3 separate regions of the Homo sapiens genome follow, and all the other regions are linked to region 1. The links come from fine-mapping of genetic effects on gene expression. A gene starts in region 1. Each other region holds a variant in brackets. All regions are shown on one strand. Distances are between the middles of the regions. Region 1 holds the start of FNDC1 (fibronectin type III domain containing 1). Region 2 has its middle 53 kb from the start of LINC02529. Region 3 has its middle 40 kb from the start of FNDC1.

Region 1 (2,756 bases):
CTACCATCCTTCCAAATCCACGAATGATGGGAGAAAGAGACCTTTCCACCAGCCCGTGTTAGAAGAGTCCCAACTCTGAGTGACCCTGTCTAGGCCACTGCAGAGCCCTGAGCCAGTGGGGAAGTGGGGCTTTGGGAAGGAGTGGGAGTAAGGAGGGGGCCTGTCACTTGGTTGGAGTTGGGGAGGGAGCTACCATTCCCCCAAAATAGGCAGAGCCGGGTGGCTGCTGGTGAGACAGAAACCACACAGCTCCATTAAATGGCATGTGGGGAAACATGATAACATAAGGGAGTAATGCAGGAAAGTGTGTTTGGGCTGGGCGTGGTGGCTCACGCCTGTAATCCCAGCACTTTGGGAGGCCAAGGTGGGCGGATTGCTTGAGCTCAGGAGTTGGAGACCAGCCTGGGCAACGTGGGGAAACCCTGTCTCTACAAAACATACAAAAATGAGCTGGGCATGGTGGCTGAAACCTGTAGTCCCAGCCACTTAGGAGGCTGAGGCAGGAGAATGGCTTGAGCCTGGGATATGGTGGTTGCAGTGAGCCAAGACTGCACCACTGCACTCCAGCCTGGGCGGCAGAGGCAGAGGGAGACCCTGTCTCAAAACAAAAAGAAAAAGAAAAACAAACAAACAAAAACCTTTGCTGGGAAGCAGGAGAGTTTCCTGGAAAGGAAGGCGGTAGGTTTACACCTTTCCTGGGTGCTCAAATTCAAAGAGATACTGTATTTCTGGTTTTCATCTCTTTGCAATTCATTTACCTTTTTTTTTTCCTCTCTGCAGAACACAAATCCGGTCAAGTTTTGGGTTGTCATGAGGGAGAACTGACATAGCGCTGGGCGGTGAGTTCAGCCAGGTTATCTCTGCGAGGACACCGGTCGGCGGCGGACAGCAGCACGCGGCGTCCAGGACCCGGCCTTCCTAGAGCTTAGGTCACTGTAGCCTCCAGGGGCGCTCCGAGTCCATCTGGAGGGCCGCGAGGCTTCCAGGCTGGAAGGAGGAATAGGGAGAAGGAGGAATAGGGAGACCTGGGGCAGTGTTACAATTACAGAAAAGGGAGAGGCGAGGTCCGCTGAGTCCTTGGCCTGGGCAACAAGGCACACTGAAAACTGGGTTCCTTTTCGACCCGCATCGTGCGCGCCCTAGAAATGACAGCCAGACGGAGCAGGGTCTAAGGACGCTGAAAACCCCTGACGTGGGCGCGCCGGGTGCGGGTAGGGACGTGGAAGGACTGGGCTAGCCACAGGAACTACAGCGCTGCGGACCGGGTGAGGGGTCCCGGCCCGAGTCCCCACTTGGGGCGCAGAGGTGTTTCTGTAAGGGGACAAAGGGCACTCCTCGGCGCGATGGGCGACTTCCCCAGCCAGAAAATGAGAGGGTTAGACGAGGGGAGGAACTTCCTCAGCCACTTGGCCCGGCACAGCGACCGCCCCAAGTTCAGAACCGCTAAGTCAGTCCGGGGCGCTCCGGCCCCTTCGTCCCGCGCCCCGCCCGCCTCCAGCCCGGGCCCCGCCGCCCCCGTCGCCCCTGTCGCCCGGGTCGCCCCCGCCGGCCCTGGCCCCGGCCCCGCACACCGGCAGGGGGCGCCCGAGCGCAGCTAAAAGGCTCGGCGGGAGGTCGGCGGCCTCAGTGGCGGAGCGCGGCTGCCGGTGTGCGGCCGGGAGCGATCGCCGCGGGGCAGGGGCGCGGCGGGCACCGCGCAGAGCGCGCAGAACAGACGGACGGCGGCGGGGACCCGACGGCGGCGCCTCGGCACTCCCCAGACTCCGGCCAGCGCCCCCCTGCCAGCCGCAAGCACCCAGCCCCGGCCCACCCCGGGCTCTCGATGGCCCCCGAGGCCGGGGCGACCCTGCGCGCGCCGCGCCGGCTGTCCTGGGCGGCGCTGCTGCTCTTGGCCGCGCTGCTCCCCGTCGCCTCCTCGGCGGCGGCCTCAGGTACGCGCCGCGCCCGGGCCCCCGGCGCTCCTCAGCTCCCCGCGCACCCTCCTGCGCTCGGGCCCCGTCGTCCCGCTCAGTGCTGGCTACGGGTCGTGTCACTAGCCTGTGCGTCCTCGTCACTCGCGGGTCGGGGCACTTGGCGCCCTGTGTGGGTGGCGGGAGCGGGGACGCCTCGGTGCCCGGGGACCGCAGCGCGCTGGCGTTTAACTTTGCCGTCGCCCGCCTTGGAGTCGGGAGGCTCCAGCCGTCTAAGTGTCCCGGGAGATTCAGGCACAGCGGGGAAAAAAGGAAAAGAAAGGCGACTTTCAGCGTGCGGACTGGGGTAATGCCTTTCTTTGCCCAGAATTTCTCGGGAGCGTAGGTGGTCATCCTACTTTCTCCGCGTTCACCTCTCGCGAGGCAGGATGACGGGCGCACTCGGGAGACCGGAGGGAGGCAGAGCAGGGCTGTTCTAGAAGGTCGTGGGGGAAAGGCTGCGAGCTGCCGCAGGGCGTCGGGTGCCTCTGCGCTCCAGAGGAGAAGCGCTCCAGTGCCAGCTCGGCTCCAGGCGGCAGGAGGCCCGCGCGCCCGGGGGGAACGTTCAAGCTGGGAGAAAATGTTTGTCTTGAGAGGAGGGAGAGGGAAATGAGAAAGCTGATTCCAGAGAAACTCGCCCTTCCCCAATGGCTGAGGCTGCAGCCAGGATGGATGCTTCCTTTGAGAGCAATGCTTTTCAGAAAATGCTAGCGCGCTCCTGTCAGATTTCTTGCAAGCTTCCTGCAGAGAGAGACAAGTTTGTGGCGAGGTTTTCATTCCTAAGCCTTTGGCGGCCCTTGTTACCAC
Region 2 (2,756 bases), 270 kb after region 1:
ACCAGAAGTGCGAGTATCTCAGAGAGCGTTTCAAGGCAAGCCAAGGGGCAGAGCAACAGTGACTCTGGTGGCTAGTCCAAAGGCAGTGGAAAGTGGCCACTTCCCTGGGAGCCATAAGAAGGACCTTACAGTCTCACTTGGGCCCCATGAAGCTCTGGAGTATCATTCAAGGACTCCACATTTAGATTCTCCAAATGGCCAGAAATGTGCTGATTAACAGTTCACGAGGAACCACGTGGGTGCCGTAGGGTGCTGAAGGTTGCATGGCTGCGAGAAGATGTTCAAATATACCTGATAGGTGCTTCCTGCCCCATCCCACAGTATTAACCACGTGTTTCTGAAATTTTGACACCTAGATCCTCACTGACACTGGAGGGACTGCTCCCCCCAGGGCTAGTCAAGTCCTAGAGACAGCAAATGACTCCCCCATGAGTGTGCCCTTCATGTGCAAACCACACAGTCCAGAGCCCACATGCAGACCCTGTCTCCTCTAGCAGGCTCTGCCATGCTGGGCCTCTATTCCCCTGCCGTAATCACCCCAGGGCCAGGTGCCAGACAACTGGAAACAGCCCCTATGCCCCAGACCCAACAGAAATTATTCACACTAGCCGGTCCTAAGCCTGCTCATCCTATCTCCCCAGTTTCTTCCCTCGGAAACCTCGGCCGAGGCTCTTGCCTGTGTTTCCTCTAGCTTCTCTGCCACCTGCCCAACCCTGGTGCTTCCGCATGGGGCCCTGAGCATCATAGTGTGACCCTCCTCTCGGGAACTGAGTGACAATGGCAATCGTCTCATCTGTTGGCTTCACCGCACCTGAAAACCTACAATTTACACCACCAACCCCACTTTCTGCCAGAAAAATCTGTCCTAACCAGCTCCTCTGGCTGGGTTTATACATATTCTTATCACAGCTGCCAAGATCATGGTCACCAACAGGTCTTATCTGTGCAAAGGGGATAATGATAGAGCGAGGATGGTATGAAGAGCACGCTAGGCACACGCAGTGAGCTCTCAGCCCGGGTCTGGCGCTGGGAGGTGCTTGGTGCATCTCAGCTCTGATTACGATGATGACAAACTGTGCACCTCAAGGCCTCCAGGTCACCTCTGAGTGCCAGACACTTCCCATTCCAGCCCCTGTGCATTATCCTGAGCAATGCTTGTCTGCCTGTTAACACCAGCTCTGCAGATGAGAAGCCTCTCAAAACCCTTCCCCTGCACACCTCAGCAGGAGCAGCTGCTGCAGCGACACTGGGAACCCTCGAGTCTGAAGCCGGTGGGGAAGGGGCTCAGAATCTGCTTACCTGAGAGCTCAGGGAGCCTCCAGAGAGATGATTCACCTCACCTGGAGAGAGACAGCCAGAAAGGGCTGCTTACCCAGCAGCCGCTCCTCTGCCGTGCAGGAGAAACAGCAATTCTTTCCCTTAGATTTGTCTCTGGCCCAGAACCACC[T/C]CCATCTGATTCCTGAGGAGAGACGGAGGTGGGAACGGGGGTTTAGGGGTTATGGTTGAAGCTGAATGAGCTTCTTTCTCTTAAAACTCCAAACATCAACATTCAAGGCAGTACAGCTGACGGAACACAAAAGAACATCAACAAATATTGGACTCCAGTTAATGACATGTGTGGGAACAAAGGCACTGATGTTTGCAGCTGACTTTGAAAAGTCTAAAAACAATAAGCTGGATGGATGGGTAGCTGCACAGATATGTGGAAAGGAAAGAGAGCTGACGGCCAACAGCTGCGATGTATCTAGATGTGGCTATGTGAACCACCGTATAATTCTTTACATTCTTCTGTATGTGTAAAATATTGGGGACAAAAGGGACCAGAGACATCTTCCTTCTTCAGCATGGAAGGCAGAGTGGCCCTAGTATCCCGGGCATTCCAGGCCTCCGCAGCAGGAATGGAGGCAGATGGCAGCCAAGCAGCTGGGGAGCCGGGCAGTGGCAGGGGCACCTGGCAAAAGGGGCTTCGCTGCGGAGCACCCGAATCAGTGCAGGGCATCTTGGAGAGCTTCACAGGAGGGGAGCCCCCACTGCCGAGCAAAAGAGGGAGAAAATGTTGGGGCCACACAGTGCAGGGTGGACTTGCTCAAGAGCCCCCTGGAGACCCATCCCAGGACTTATCTGAAGACACTTTGCAGATGTCTTGACCCCTGCATTAAGAGACCCAGTGGAACACTGGTTATAGCTAGAAATGCACATATTTCCCAAAATTACTCTACAGATTTGTTTCCATCAGGAAATTTCAAATCCTCAAGTATAATTATATTTGACTTTTTTGAGATGAATCTTCTTTTTGTAAAGTATCACTTCCTCTGGAACAGCAGGGTTATTATTTAACAAGTTTAGCAAAAAACAAACAAAAAAAAACATTTCAAATAGAACGTAATCAAAGTTCTCTCCCTGATCCATCCCAATTGTATACTTCATCTTTTCAATGATGAATTGGATTCCTGTCTATGAAGCCCAGAATCCATTAAACTCCCCAAACTGGGTCTTAGTCACAGCACAACTGAGAAGCCATGTTTCAAACATGGAAGTGAGAATGAAGGACTTGACTTGCCAAATTACTGCCACACAAGCCCGATTTTCTCTACTAGCGGAGGCAGACCAATGGGAAGTGAACACCGAGGTCCATTTGTGAGTGAGCTCCCAATCCATGAGCAAAATAGTTTTGAAAACTTTAGGGAAACATTTGAATATTTTCCAGATATTAAGGACTCTTCCAACTTCTTTATTCAAATCCAAGTATGAATGAC
Region 3 (2,756 bases), 40 kb before region 1:
AACCACGGGATCATGGATGTGGAGACCGTCCTGACCAGGACCGTTGTGGGATGTTCTCGTTCTCATTCACTCCCTGTGAACCTCCTGCGGGGAGGGTCCCGTCTGAGAGACAGAGCTTCACAAGTCCCTTTCTGCTTTATTTCCTGTCTCAGTGACACATTAGAAAACAGGAGGAAAAGATATCATAGCTGCAGCCACCGGAAGGAAGCGAGGCTATCATTCCAAATGACCCTCCTCATAAAGAAAAACGGACTTAAACTGGGAATTTCACGTCTCAGTTGTCTCCTAGGTTTCTTTCTCTGGTGTGAGGACAGAAACAGGCTTCCCTGCCTTCCCCAGGAACCTCTCCCTCCTCTGAAGGCCTGGGAGAGCATTTCTGAGAGCTTGCAGTGCTCTTGGGAGCCACACTAGGCACCATCACAAACGTATCACAACAGACCGCACGTGTGCATTCTTCCCCAGCTAGCACCAAAAAGAAGATTCCAAATCGGTTTGGTGAATGGTGGTTAAACAAAAAGTACAGTCTAGCTTCCTAGTTTCCTTCCAGAACTGCTGCTGTGGCACAACCAATTCACATCAAGGAATCCTCTGGGACGTGAGCTGCGGGCCTGGCGACGCGCAACACAAGCAGGGCAGGGCATTCATTGTTCATCGGCTCCTAGCAGGTGGACTCTCTTCACAGACACACAGACCCACGATCTTCGTGCTATTACGGTTGCTTCATCTTCACAGTAAAAGCGTCAGGAATTCCCAGAGCGATGGGACATCAGCTCGGCTGTTCCGCTGTCTCTTGTCGGTGCTGGTCACGGAACCAACAGCCCCTTTGGTAATGAAGAGCTCTTTACTCCTGAGGGAGGACTGAAGTCCAAGCCAAAAGGCAGGGCACAGTGACGCAGAGGCCACTCCCTCAGGGGATGAGCCCCCTGCCCTCCCCAGGCCCATCAGAGGCCTCCCCGACAAGAGTGCTCGGTGGCCGGAACCGGCAGGGAGCTGAGTGCGAGGAGACCCGGGACACCGCTGCACTGGCCCCGCACGCGCGTCTCAGTGGCGGGTGTGCTCCTGCGGTGTTGGGACGCATGGAGCCCGTGCTGTACGAAACAGTCGTAGAAAACTACAAACAGGCTACACGAGGGGGAGGCCTCGAGCTGCAAAGTGGTGGCTGTGGACCACGTTAAACCGTCTCTACCCGGCCTGTGCGCTTGGCCTGGCAGCCTGAGCTCACAATCGTCCGACCACGTCCACTGGACGCCCTCGGTGACTGCTGGGCACATACGGGGGTCATCCTATCAAAAGTTACGGTGAAGTCAGGGTGGGTGGCGAGTCCCTGCAAGGTCGCCCCTCTGTGCCAACACAGCCTGATGGCTTCTTGTTTCAGGAAACATCCAGAATTACAACTGGCCATTGAGTTATTACATATCAATTGAACAAGGTAGTTTTAAAATGAAAGAAAATCTTGCAACATGAATAAAGAGATAGACTCTTTGAATCTGGCATACAGCTTTCCCTTCCTTCTTCCTGCTTTCCTGGACACACCGTGGACAGACCCATTTCCCTCTGGATTCATGGTAAGGTA[T/A]GTGTGGCCTCTGGAGGAAGGCAGATGGTGGGTCTTACTCCGGTTACAGTGCTTTATTTACCAAATCGTAGCTACACTGCCTTTCCCCCTGCCAGAAAAGGTTGTCGAACTCTTTTATCTTGGAGCATTTATGGGACCTGGATCCCACTGCGTGATTTTGGGAAATGCTTGTCTAAGGAGCTTTCAGGCTCTGTGTGAAGAGCTATATATCCAGCCATGGTGCTTTCATGAGTAAAGACATTAGAAAGACTTTTTCAAATACCAAAGGGTCCAGAAATATTCTCTTAGTGGCTCATTCTATTCATTTTGGGTCCTGGGGCAAGAGAACAAATAGTAATCTACATACCTGTACTTAAGTGGTGTTGATAAATCACACTTCAAGGTAATACACTCTTAAGTAAAATATATCCTCTCATTTTTCATGATTACTTGAAGGCCCTGGTGGAAGCTCTGCTCCAGGACAAGGGGACGCCAGTCACCTGTGGCGCCATCTCAAGGTGGCATCGCGTGGAGCTGGGTCCTGCTCTTACTGCCGCCTGACAGCAGTGCCCAGCCTGGCTCGGTGCCTCACCTGCCCCTGCCCCACCATCAGCGCTTTCTTAACAGAATAGCAATGCCGTTCCGGTGTTCTTCCATTCCCAAGCCACTGCGTGTGTCTCTGAGGAAACTGCCCCTTCCACTGTGGGAGGTCCGGCCCTGATTAGTCGCCAGAGACACACCTGGCAGGAGGCCCATGTGGACCCTGAGAGCAGACTTAGGGCCTCTGTGGCCAGGAATTCCGGGGCCCTGGGTGTCAGGAGGGGACCAGAGGGGCACATGGTCTGTGGTGGGCACACCTCTCTGGCCTTTCGGATTCCTCAGCTGGTGGGAAGAAGTGAAGCCAGAGAGAGGCCAAGCATCACCCTCCAAAGCGGAGGCTGGGAGCAGAGGCTGCACGCTGGGCTGTGAGGTGGGGCTGCCCTGAAAATCTTTCCTGAAGATGTACCTCAACCAGGTGAAAGATGGACTGAGAATGAGAAAATGATGCTAGAACAGGGCGTGGGACTTCCCACAAGCCAGGGCTTCTCCAGATGTGGCCTATGGACTCCCAGGTCAGCACCACCTGGGACCTGGTGAAGAACGCACCCTGGCAGGCCTCGCCCCAGACCCGGGAATCCTAGAGAAGGGGTGGCCCAGCAGTCTG

What was found. PIP is the estimated chance that this variant, and not a neighbour inherited with it, causes the effect.
Region 2: its variant is fine-mapped to the expression of FNDC1 in tibial nerve (GTEx, PIP above 0.99).
Region 3: its variant is fine-mapped to the expression of FNDC1 in testis (GTEx, PIP 0.97).

The regions. Positions count from the first base shown.
Region 1 is chr6:159,167,775-159,170,530 of GRCh38, forward strand. It overlaps FNDC1 (fibronectin type III domain containing 1), which reads left to right and starts at 1,626. Exons shown (of 23, transcript NM_032532.3): 1 at 1,626-1,931. The coding sequence starts at 1,823. It overlaps FNDC1-AS1 (FNDC1 antisense RNA 1), which reads right to left and starts at 2,233. Exons shown (of 4, transcript NR_121668.1): 1 at 2,038-2,233; 2 at 759-987. RefSeq lists a silencer at 1,505-1,674 and an enhancer at 2,481-2,756.
Region 2 is chr6:159,435,183-159,437,938 of GRCh38, forward strand. No RefSeq gene overlaps it. Among named protein-coding and RNA genes, the nearest start is that of LINC02529, 53 kb to the left of the region's middle. The variant T/C (reference allele first, on the strand shown) is at 1,448.
Region 3 is chr6:159,128,097-159,130,852 of GRCh38, forward strand. No RefSeq gene overlaps it. Among named protein-coding and RNA genes, the nearest start is that of FNDC1, 40 kb to the right of the region's middle. The variant T/A (reference allele first, on the strand shown) is at 1,574.